Linked DNA regions of Homo sapiens: region 1 is linked to region 2. The links come from fine-mapping of genetic effects on gene expression. A gene starts in region 2. The other region holds a variant in brackets. All regions are shown on one strand. Distances are between the middles of the regions. Region 1 has its middle 31 kb from the start of KCTD15. Region 2 holds the start of KCTD15 (potassium channel tetramerization domain containing 15).

Evidence for each region. PIP is the estimated chance that this variant, and not a neighbour inherited with it, causes the effect.
Region 1: its variant is the best candidate, but not a certain one, in a credible set for the expression of KCTD15 in whole blood (INTERVAL, PIP 0.74).

Annotation. Positions count from the first base shown.
Region 1 is chr19:33,825,429-33,830,793 of GRCh38, forward strand. No RefSeq gene overlaps it. Among named protein-coding and RNA genes, the nearest start is that of KCTD15, 31 kb to the left of the region's middle. The variant G/A (reference allele first, on the strand shown) is at 3,140.
Region 2 is chr19:33,794,426-33,799,790 of GRCh38, forward strand. It overlaps KCTD15 (potassium channel tetramerization domain containing 15), which reads left to right and starts at 2,445. Exons shown (of 7, transcript NM_001129994.2): 1 at 2,445-2,562; 2 at 4,243-4,341. RefSeq lists an enhancer at 1-378 and a silencer at 1,024-1,143.

The DNA of each region.
Region 1 (5,365 bases), 31 kb after region 2:
GTATATATATATATATGCATGGTATATATATATATATATATATATATATGCATGGTATATATATAAATATATATATATATATATGCATGGTATATATATATATGCATGGTATATATATAAATATATATATATATATGCATGGTATATATATATATGCATGGTATATATATATATATATATATATATATATATCATGCATATATATACACATACATACACATACACCATATATATGAGTAATGTCTTGGCCCCACGTGAGACATTGTGAGGAACCTGCCGTTGGTGCGTCCAGCCTGAACACGTGCTGTTTTATTACGCTTTGTGGGCGTGCTTATGTGGGGATCTGGGTGAGTGTGGAAAAGACATATTGCTGCTGATGGGAGCTGGGAAGTCTTTGATTCCTTGGAGACAGTGAATAAACTGTGTGTTGTGTGCTCATGTTTTAGCTCCAAACCATTACATGAAGTCAACTGTGGAATTTTCTACTTGTGACATCAGGGTGGCACCCAAAAAGTTTCAGATTTTGAAGCATTTTGGATTTCAGATTTTCAGTTTAGGGATGCTCAGCCAATAGTACTTTATTAATTGGCGAGTGCTGTCTGTTTTCACCAGGAAGGCCTCGCTGAGCCGCATGTAAAATTTAAATAAAGCCCCAAAGAAGGTAAGGCAGGAGGCTGGGCGGGATGGCTCACGCCTGTAATCCGGCACTTTGGGAGGCCGAGGTAAGTAAATCACCTGAGGTCAGGAGTTCAAGACCAGCCTGACCAATATGGTGAAAACCTATCTCTACTAAAAATACAAAAATTAGCTGGGCGTGGTGGCCTGCGCCTGTCGTCCCAGCTACTTAGGAGGCTGAGACAGGAGAATTGCTTGAACCTGTGAGGCAGAGGTTGCAGTGAGCCAAGATGGCACCACTGCACTCCAGCCTGGGCGACAGAGCGAGAGTCCATCACAAAACAAAATAAAATAAAAATACAAAAATTAGCCAGGCATGGTGGCTTGCACCTGTAGTCCCAGCTGCTCGGGAGGCTGAGGCAGGAGAATCATTTGAGCCCCGGAGGCAGAGGTTGCAGTGAGCCAAGATGGCGTCACTGCACTCCAGCCTGGGTGACTGAGCGAGACTCCATCCCTGCCCCCGGCAAAAAAGAAGAAGGTAAGGCGGGAGAAATGCAGATTTCTGGCAGAAGAGCATTTGGGGCAAAGGGGCTGCAAGGCAAAGGCCTCGAGGTAGGAGTGTGCATGATGTGTCTCAGAAACGCAAGAAGGAGGTTATGTGGCTGGAGTGTGAGGGGCTGGGGAGTTGCAGAAGGTGAGGTCGCAGGGGTGCCTGGGGTAGGAGGGAAGTCAGATCATGTAGGGTCTTTGAAAAACGTGTTGCCTGTACTCCACCCATTTCCCCTTAGCACTTGCCTTCAGGTGCACACAGACCCTATGGCTTCCTACTGCTCCTGTAGCTCTCTGCCTGAGGGTCTTTGTTGGTGAGGAGTGCAACAGCTCCTCATGCGTGGGGCAGGCCAGGAAGTCAATGCCCCCTTAGCTCTCTACTATTGTGGAGATGGCAAATAAACACCCAGGTGTCTTGCCTTTTGCGTCTGACAATGGGGAGGTCTGCTCTAGGCTCTCTCAGGGGCCTCCAGTGGGGTTAGAGTGCAACGGCATGATCTTGGCTCACTGCAACCCCTGCCTCCCAGGTATAAATGAGTCTCCTGCCTCAGCCTCCCAAGTAGCTGGGATTACAGGCATGCGCCACCATGTCTGGCTAATTTCTGTATTTTTAGTAAAGATGGGGTTTCACCATGTTGGCCAGGCTGGTCCCAAACTCCTGACCTCAGGTGATCCGTCTGCCTCGGCCTCCCAAAGTGCTGGGATTAGAGGCGTGAGCTACCATGCCCTGCCTCATTTGTTACTTTTTAAGGGCCAGGGTCTTGCTCTGTTGCCCAGGCTGGGGTGCAGTGGTAGATCATAGCACACTGTAAAGCTAAACTCCTGGCCTCAAGCGATCCTCCCACCTCAGCTTCCCTAGCAGCTAGAACTGCAGGCACATGCCACAATGCCTGGGTAATTTTTTATATTTATTTATTTATTTATTTATTTATTTATTTATTTATTTATTTATTGAGACCTAGTCTTGCTCTGTTGCCCAGGCTAGAATACAGTGGCACGATCTCAGCTCACTGCAACCTCCACCTCCCGGGTTCAAACGATTCTCGTGTCTCAGCTTCTCAAGTAGCTGGGATTACAGATGTGCACCACCACACCCGGCTAATTTTTGTATTTTTAGTAGAGATGGAGTTTTGCCATCTCTACTCATTGACCAGGCTCATCTCAAACTCCTGACCTCAAGTGATCTGTCAGCCTCTGCCTCCCAAAGTGCTGGGATTACAGGCATGAGCCATTGTGCCTGGCCAATTTTTATTTTTGCAGAGGTGGAGGTGCCTTTCTATGTTGCCCAGGCTGGTCTCAAACTCCTGGCCTCAAGTGGTCCTCCCACTTCAGCCTCCCAAAGCGCTGGGATTACAGGCATGAGCTGCCGTGCCCAGACAAGTAGCTCCCTTACTAGCCTTCCCTCTCTTGGCTTCCTTCCTTGCCCTGTCTTACTTCCCTCTCTCTCTTCCTATATACCAGGAATCACCTCCCAGTGAATGCTGCGTTCAAGGTCTTGTCTCGGCATCAGCTTCTGGAGCATCCCAATCTAAAACACTGCCATGAACCGTGATTGGGACTTGGGCTTCTATTTTTATTTTTATTTTGAGACGGAGTCTCGCTCTGTCTCCCAGGCTGGAGTGCAGTGGCATGATCTCGGCTCACTGCAACCTCTGCCTCCCGGGTTCAACTGATTCTCCTGCCTCAGCCTCCCCAGTAGCTGGGACTACAGGCACATGCCAGCATGCCTGGCTAATTACTTGTATTTTTAGTAGAGATGGAGTTTCACCGTGTTAGCCAGGATGGTCTGGAACTCCTGGCCTCCCAAAGCGCTGGGATTACAGGCGTGAGCCACTGCGCCAGGCCAGGACTTGGGCTTTTCCTGAGCTTGAGAGCAGTGGCCACTGCCCAGTGGTGAGCAGAGGAGGGAAATAGACTGAAGGGGGCTGGGGAGGAGCAGGGAAACCAGTTGGATGCGACCATGATCCTTCAGAGC[G/A]AGCTGAAGGTGGCCTGGAGCAGGGTGAGAGACGTGGGAGTAGGGAGAGGCAGTTCCATCCTGGGTACACTTGGAAGGAGGAGCCAACATAACTTGATGCCTGCTTAGATGTGAAATGTGGGAGGCAGTGAGGTGTCTAGGGTGGCTACAAGGGGGTTGGCCTGAGCAAAGGAAGGATGGAGTTGCCTTTTGCTGGGATGAGAAGATTGATGGTGTTGGGCAGATGGGGCAGGCTGTTGAGATGCCTGTTAAGCACAGGACTGACAAAGCTGGGCTGGGAGACAGGCAGGTACTTGGGAACTCAGGAGGGAGTCCAGGCTGCAGGTGTACGTTGGAGGGTCCTCACAAGTTAGACAGCATTCAAAGCCAAGACTGGATAAGGTCTCCAAGGCAGTAAGTGTCAAAAGAGAAGAGACTGGCTGGGCGCGGTGGCTCACGCCTATAATCCCAGCACTTTGGGAGGATGAGGCGGGCAGATGTCTTGAGGTCAGGAGTTCGAGACCAGCCTGACCAACATGGTGAAACCCTGTCTCTACTAAAAATGCAAAAATTAGCTTGCCATGGTGGCGGGCACCTGTAATCCCAGCTACGTAAGAGGCTGAGGCAGGAGAATCTCTTGAACCTAGGAGGCGGAGGCTGCAGTGAGCCGAGATCGTACCAGTGCACTCCAGCCTGAGCAGCACAGCAAGACTCCATCTCAAAACACACACACACACACACACACACACACACACATTAAAAAAAAAAAAAAAGAAGAGGTTTCCAGGATGAGCCCCGGGCACTCGGTGTTTGGAAGCTGGGAGAGGGAAGAAGGGTGCAGCAGAGGGTTTGGAGAAGGAGTGACCGCAGGGTGGGAGGAAAGAGAGAACAGGAGAGAAATGGAAGCAAGAATGGACCACACTTGATGGAAAATTATCTGATAAAATATTTTTAATTAATTTTGGTGTATTTTGAAACAATCACAAATTTACCAAAAAAATTTGCAAGGACAGTACAAAACTGTTTTGTTTGGTTTTACCATGAACAAAAGTATTTATTTAGAATGAGAAAAGTCACAACATAATACAAATTTAAAATACCACAAAATGGCCAGGCATGGTGGCTCATGCCTGTAATCCCAGCACTTTGGGAGGCCAAGGCAGGAGGATTGTTGAGCCCAGGAGTTCAAGACCAGCCTGGGCAACGTAGCAAAATTTAGCTAGAAATGGTGGTGCATGCCTGTAGTCCCAGCTATTCTGGAGGCCAAGTAGGGAAGATCCCTTGAGCCCAGAAGGTCAAGGCTGCAGTGAATTGTTGATCATGCCACTGCACTCTAGCCTAGGTGACACAGCAGGACTCTAGCTCTAAAAAATAAAATAATAAAATACTATGAACATCACAAAATTCAGAACAATACCATATTAGTATTTCATTCCTATATTATTAATCAACTGGCTGATGTAACACGCTTCCTACATAATTTAGCTGTCTACCCTGATCACTTCTTCAAATAGCAACAATAATATATGTTTTTATAGAGAGAATAGAAAAGCAATTTTGCATTTCCTCTAGAGTGATTGATCCAAAATTGTGATTTTTTATTATCAATATTGGAGGAAGCAAAACTTCTTTTTTTTTTCTTTTTTTGAGATGGAGTCTCGCTCTGTCACCCATGCTGGTCTCAAACTCCTGGGCTCAAGCAAGCCTCCTGCCTTGGCCTCCTAAAGTGCTAAGACTACAGGCGTGAGCCACTGCACCCAGCCCAATACTATTTTTTGATGAACCATTTCATATTGTTACTGACATGATGCCCCTTCACCCCCAAAATAGCTTGTGTTTTCTACAAACAAGGATATTCCCCTCCGTAACCACATACAGTCATCAATACCAGGAAACCACACAACTGCATTACTAACACCTGCTCTTCCGACCCATACAGATTTTACCAATTGCCCTGGTATCATCCTTAGTAGCAAAGCATCCAGCCCAGGATCAACACATTTAGCAGTCACATCTCTTCAGTTCCTGGGTCTTTCCCTGACTTTCATGACCTTGACACTTTTGATGATTACAAGCCACTTATTTTGTAGAATGTCCCTCAATTTGGGCTGGGCTGATATTTTCTAATGATAAGGTCATATTATGTGACCCAGCAATTCCATTCTTAGATACATACAAAATAACTGAAAACAGGTGCTGAAACAAATTTTTTTCTTTTTGAGGCCGAGTTTTACTCTGTCCCCCAGG
Region 2 (5,365 bases):
TCTTTCAAGTATTAATTTATATGTATATATTCACCCAGATTGAACACGAAACAAAGGCGTTACCGCAGCCACCTAGGATGAGGGACAAAAGAGGTGTGAGGGGCGCTGGGGGCCACAGGAGCCATGACAAGCGGATTTTCAGTGAGTCCCTCATCCTCCAACACAAGCCTGCTCCACCTTCCCTCATTCCACCCTCCACAAAGGCCTGGGGCGGGGGAGGACGTTTCTGTCCATGAAGTTGGGGGCACCCACACACACAACCTCGTCCGATTGTGATTCTAGCCAGCATTTAAGGGTGGATACAGGAGATCAAAGTATTTGAATACTTGCTTCACTTTCTATTTGTGTCTGGTCCCTCAATGCTGAGTGGGATGTGCATTGATGGAGGGCTTTGCTGTTCCTATGTCGTGCTTGGGACAGTCGGCCACAAAGCTGGGCTGACCTCTCGGGCCGGGCCGGGCCTGGCCAGCGTGCCGAACGCGCAGAGAGCGCGCTGCTGAGCCGAAGCTGGGAGCTGGAAGCCCGGAGGTACCGGGGCGTAGGGAGCAGAGTGGGCAGCCCTTGGGCCTCGCGGGAGCCCCTCCCAACCCCTGCACAGATCCCTGACCTACTTCCAGGGCTTCTTTCTGTTCCAGGAGCAGCTCAAAATCCATAAATTAAGGAAATTAACTGATGGGGCCTGCGGCATCTTTGTAAGCTATTTAAATCTATAAATTTACAACATCTTCTGCATATATCAAATAATTGAACTAACTGCAGGGATGTAACTTTAATGAGAAAATTTCCCCCTTTTTCCTGTAGTTCGAACTCGAAAATAAATAAATAAATAAAACCTTCCCTTAGGAGGAAAGTTTCGGCTGATTCCCGCGTAAAGAAGTTACGGAAGCGCTGTCTGGACGCTCTCTCCACGCGCGCGAGGTCCTCTAGTAGAGGGAGAAAGCCCCCCCCACTTCACCTTCCTCCCACTGGCACCCCGAGTCCCCCTCACCCCAGCTCCAGGCCGACCCCGAGCGCCCCCCACCCCGGGAGTGCGGCCGCTAGGGGGCGTCCAGGCCCGGCCGGAGCCGGCGGTCGGGACCCAGGCGCCGTTCCGGCCCGTGCGCACCCGCCCCGCGGTCCCAGCCGGTCTCCGGCCCGGGCGTCCCTGGAGCCAGGCGGGGGCGCAGTGCCGGCCAGTCGCGCGCTCCGTTTCCTAGGAGCCGGGAAATGGTCGCCGAGGAGGAGGAGGAGGCACGGGCGGGGCGCAAAGGAAACAGGAGGAAGAGGAAGGGGAGGAGGAGTGGGAGTGGGAGAAAAGGAGGAAGGGGCGGCCGAAGCGGAGACTGGGGAGGGGCGTCCGGGGCGCGGACCTCGGCCGCGGGGAGTCTTGGCTGCCGCCGTCTCCATCGCGCCGCGCGCGTAAAGGAAATGGCGCGTCTAGCCGCGAGCGGTCGGCCCGGTGCCCCAGCGCGTCCCTCCCCCGCGGCGGCCGACCGCGTGTCCGCAGACGTCACGGGAGAGGGGCAGCGGGGCAGAGACCCTGGGAGGGCGGCCAGGGAGCGGGGGAGGGGCGGCCTGGCCCCCGGCTCCGCTCCAGCCCCGACCGACTGGCAGCCCAGTTTCTTCCCAAGTCCCGCCCCCAGCCCCGGGCGCCGCGGCGGCGGCTGCTCTCCTCTTTGTAACCGAGGAGTCAAGAAATGTGAGAAACGTGCCCTGTGTTACTTATTTGGGAGCCGAAAATTTATGCCCAGCTGAAAGCGCCCGGGGAAATATTACATCAGATGAAATGACAATGATTAAAATCAGCCTCTCCCCCGCCCCCTCCCCGAGCCCGGAGGAGGCCCGGGCGCCGCGTGGCCGGCCGGCGGGGGGCGGGGGGCTGGGCCGCGGAGGGCGCTGGGGCCTGGGCGCACCGCTCCCGGGAGGGTCCTGGCCGCGGCCCCGGCGGGAAGGCGCGGGCTTCGGGAGAGGCGGGTGGGGATCGCCCGGCGAAAGGAGGGGAAACGGCGCGTTTTTGTCGCCAGGCGCGGGCGCGCGGAGCTAATTGCGACTCTAATCCTCTGCCCCGCGGCGCAGCCGAGCCCCGAGCCAGGAGTCGCCGCGCGCGCCCGTTCGCGCTGGGTAATTTGGGGCCGGATCGCTGCCCTTTACGTCCGGGCTGGGCCGCGGCGAGGCGCTGGCTAGGGGCTGGAGTGGGGGGCTGGTTTTCTCTCCAGCAATCGAGGGAGGCCGCCGGAGAGAGAGGAGGGAGGAGAGGAGGTGGGAGCGGCGGGAGGGCAGCCGGAGAGCGGCGCGAGGAGGAGGCGGCGGCGGCGGAGGCGGCGGCCGCGAAGAGGGGAGGAGGCGAGGGGAGGGTGGGGAGGGGAGGCCCCGGCGCGCCGCGCCGCGAGGGGCCGCGTGAAGCGGGGGCCGGGGCGGGAGGGGTGGGTGGGGGGAGGGTTGGGGGCGAGAGAGAAAGTAACTCCAGGACGAGACCGGAGCGACCCGCGCAGCGAGCATAGGCGGCGAAGCTGCGCCCGGCGCCCGAGACCGGCAGCTGCGTGGGGCGGGGGCTGCGCCCGAGCCCGATCTGCCGGCTCCGAGGTAAGCTCAGCGCGGGCGGCCACCGCTCAGAGCCGCGCAACCCTGCCCCGAAGTGGCTGCGATACCGAGAAAGTCGCCCGGCCAGGGTCTGGACCTGGGCGGGGGCGGCCGCTTTGTCCCTCTGCTGGGCGGCGGGGGCTGGCGGCGCGGGGGTGCCCAGCACAAAGGCCTGGTGCAAGAGTGGGGTTGCCCACGTGGGCTGGTCCTGGCCGCGGGTGGACCCTCCCCACGCGGGCGGTCTCGGAGCTTCCTGCCGCGCGGTGTGTGTGTGTGTGTGTGTGTGTGTGTGTGTGTGTGCGCGCGCGCGCGCGCGCGCTTGTGGAGGTCCCCGCACTCTGGCCCCTGTTCTGGGCCGAGCGCCCTGCAGAGCTGGCGAGTTTCCGGGGTCAGAAACGGGCTCACGCAACTGGGGCTTCGGGATGCACAAGTCCCGGCTTGGCGCCCAAAATCAGAGAAAGTCTCCAGTGGGACAGATGTGCGTCCTCTGACGCCCACCCCACGAGTCCGAAACCTGGCAGGAGGGGCTGTCGCGCTGGTGGTGGTCCCGGGCGCGCAGGGTTTGGGGCTGGGAGAGGGGCCGCGATGGGAGGGATCGCCGCCTGCAGATCCGGTTCCCCGCTGCCCGCCCGCACCCCCTGACCTGGACGCGCGCACCCGGCACACACTCGCAAACACACCCGGGGGCGGACCCCCGCCTCTGCAGCGCCTTTCTGTCTTCCGGCGGCCCCCACCCGCGACTGCAGAAAGATAAGCTTCAAGTTTTCGCTCCGTATCTCAAATGTGCATGAAGGAATTTAACTGCACGAGTGAATAACAGCATTAGTTTCAATTAATTTTTTTTTAATCCCGGCAACAATAAACTTTGAGAACAAAAGCGCTTTTACGTCCTTAATTAGGCGAGCTTCCCATCTGTGGTCTCCAAGTGTCTGCCTCTTGATTTAACTTTGTCCCCGCCCCGCCTCCGCGGCAACCCCTCCCAGCCCAGCCCCGCGCTTCGGGTGCCGCGGCCACCCCGCCCCGCGGCGCCTCCAGCCTTGGCCCAAGCCCTCTCCCGTCGCCCCTAAGTTCACACCGGCCGGCTGGCTCCGCGGCGGAGGCGGGAGGGGGGGGGTGGGGAGGCTGGCGCGCACCAGGTGGCCCGCCTGCCTCTCCGGGGCCACCCCTGGGACAATTGTGCAGGCCCCCAGGACTTTCGCCCCGGGCCAGCGCCCTGAGTGCGGAGCCGAGGGGAGCTCGAGAGGCGCCTTCTGTTTACCTTTTATGGTTAAAATAACAGCTTAGCAAAGAAGCGACTTCAGAAGAAGCGATTTAGTGAAATCGTCTCAAGCTGCCGCAGCTCAGCCAGTTTAATCACCCCCAGAGAGCCGAACAACTGCGAGCGCAATGGGACACAAAATCATTTTGTGTGTAAATGAGCGTGGCATTCTGCTCACTTCTCTCTGCTCGGGCGGGCGGGGCTCGGCGGCGGGCGGGCAGGGACCCGGGTCTCCCGCCGCAGCTGGAGAAGCGGGTCACTACCGGGCCAGTTTGGAAACCTGTGGGCCCTCCCGACCGCTATCGCTGAGGCCCCTGCAACAGGCGGGCCAGGGCGCACTGGGGCTGGGTGCTGGGTTTGATGCTGGTGCTGGTGGAATGAACTTGTATCTCTCACTGCACCCACTTTTGTGCTTCTGACTTAAGCAGTGGTCTCGGAAAGAGGGTCGTGGTCCCGCACGGATGCGCTTGTTGGGAGAAACCTTGGAGATTCACGGCAAGGCGTAAAGCCTGGGGCTTCCAACGGTAAGTTTCTGGCTTGCCATGAACATCAGGTTGTTCTTGGGAGGGAAAAGGGGCTAAGAACAGAGTGGAGCGGCTTCTGTGATGGAGGCTTGGTGTTCACGTCACTTTGGAATAGTGTCCTGGTATTGGGGAAAACATCTTGCAGTCCGCTTTGATAGAATTTCAGCCAGAATTCCTTCCTGTTCAGTTTATCCTCAGCGCGTCTTCCCTTCTGACTCCTCCCCCAGCAGAGCCTCCTAGGGCAGGATAATCCATTCCTGAGGTCTGTTTTGGTTCTCAGAACTCCTTGAGCTAAGTGACCTGGTTTTGTTTTTTTAAGCTTGTAGAACTCAGGAATGCCAAAAGCAGTGGATTCTGAGTCCACAGGCCCCAGTGAGGGTATATATTAAACATCACTGTCTGCCCATTGCAACCTCCCACCCCAGTTTTATGTCAGGAAACTTGCCCGGGCACTCAGGGAGAGCAACCTTGCTTACATTTGCAGGATTTGATTCTGGTTGGATTAAAATTGGATATTGAATTTCAAGGCACAAATTTTGATCCCAGAGTTTTAATGGGAAAAAGCAATCCCATGGGTCCCAAGAATTTCAAGTGGTTTCTCTCTTAAAGGTTAAACCTTCGAGAGACGTCCAGGGTAGGTTTGTGGAAGCCAGTGTCTGTGGATGTGTGAAGGGGGGTGACTATTCACGTGCAAATCTCCTCTTTCCTCCCTTTTGAGACAGCTGTAAATCAGTGAACGGGGCTGCAGAATTCTGCCCCTCCTGCATAGGGCCTGCAAAGCGCCCCTGGGTGTGGCTTCCAGGGACTGAGGGACAATCTTATTTCAGGTGACTACGGCACAGAGGAGAGTTACTGAGTGCCTCTGGGGAGGAGCAGTAGAAAGGGTCCATTGGCTGATCTGCTTGCTCTGTGCTTCCTCCTGGCCACCTGGCCATCTCCTGATGCCTCGGGGGTATGTGATCCTGAGGGGTCTGGAATGCATTAGGCATAGACAACACCACTCTGGGAGTCTGGGGAGAAACTG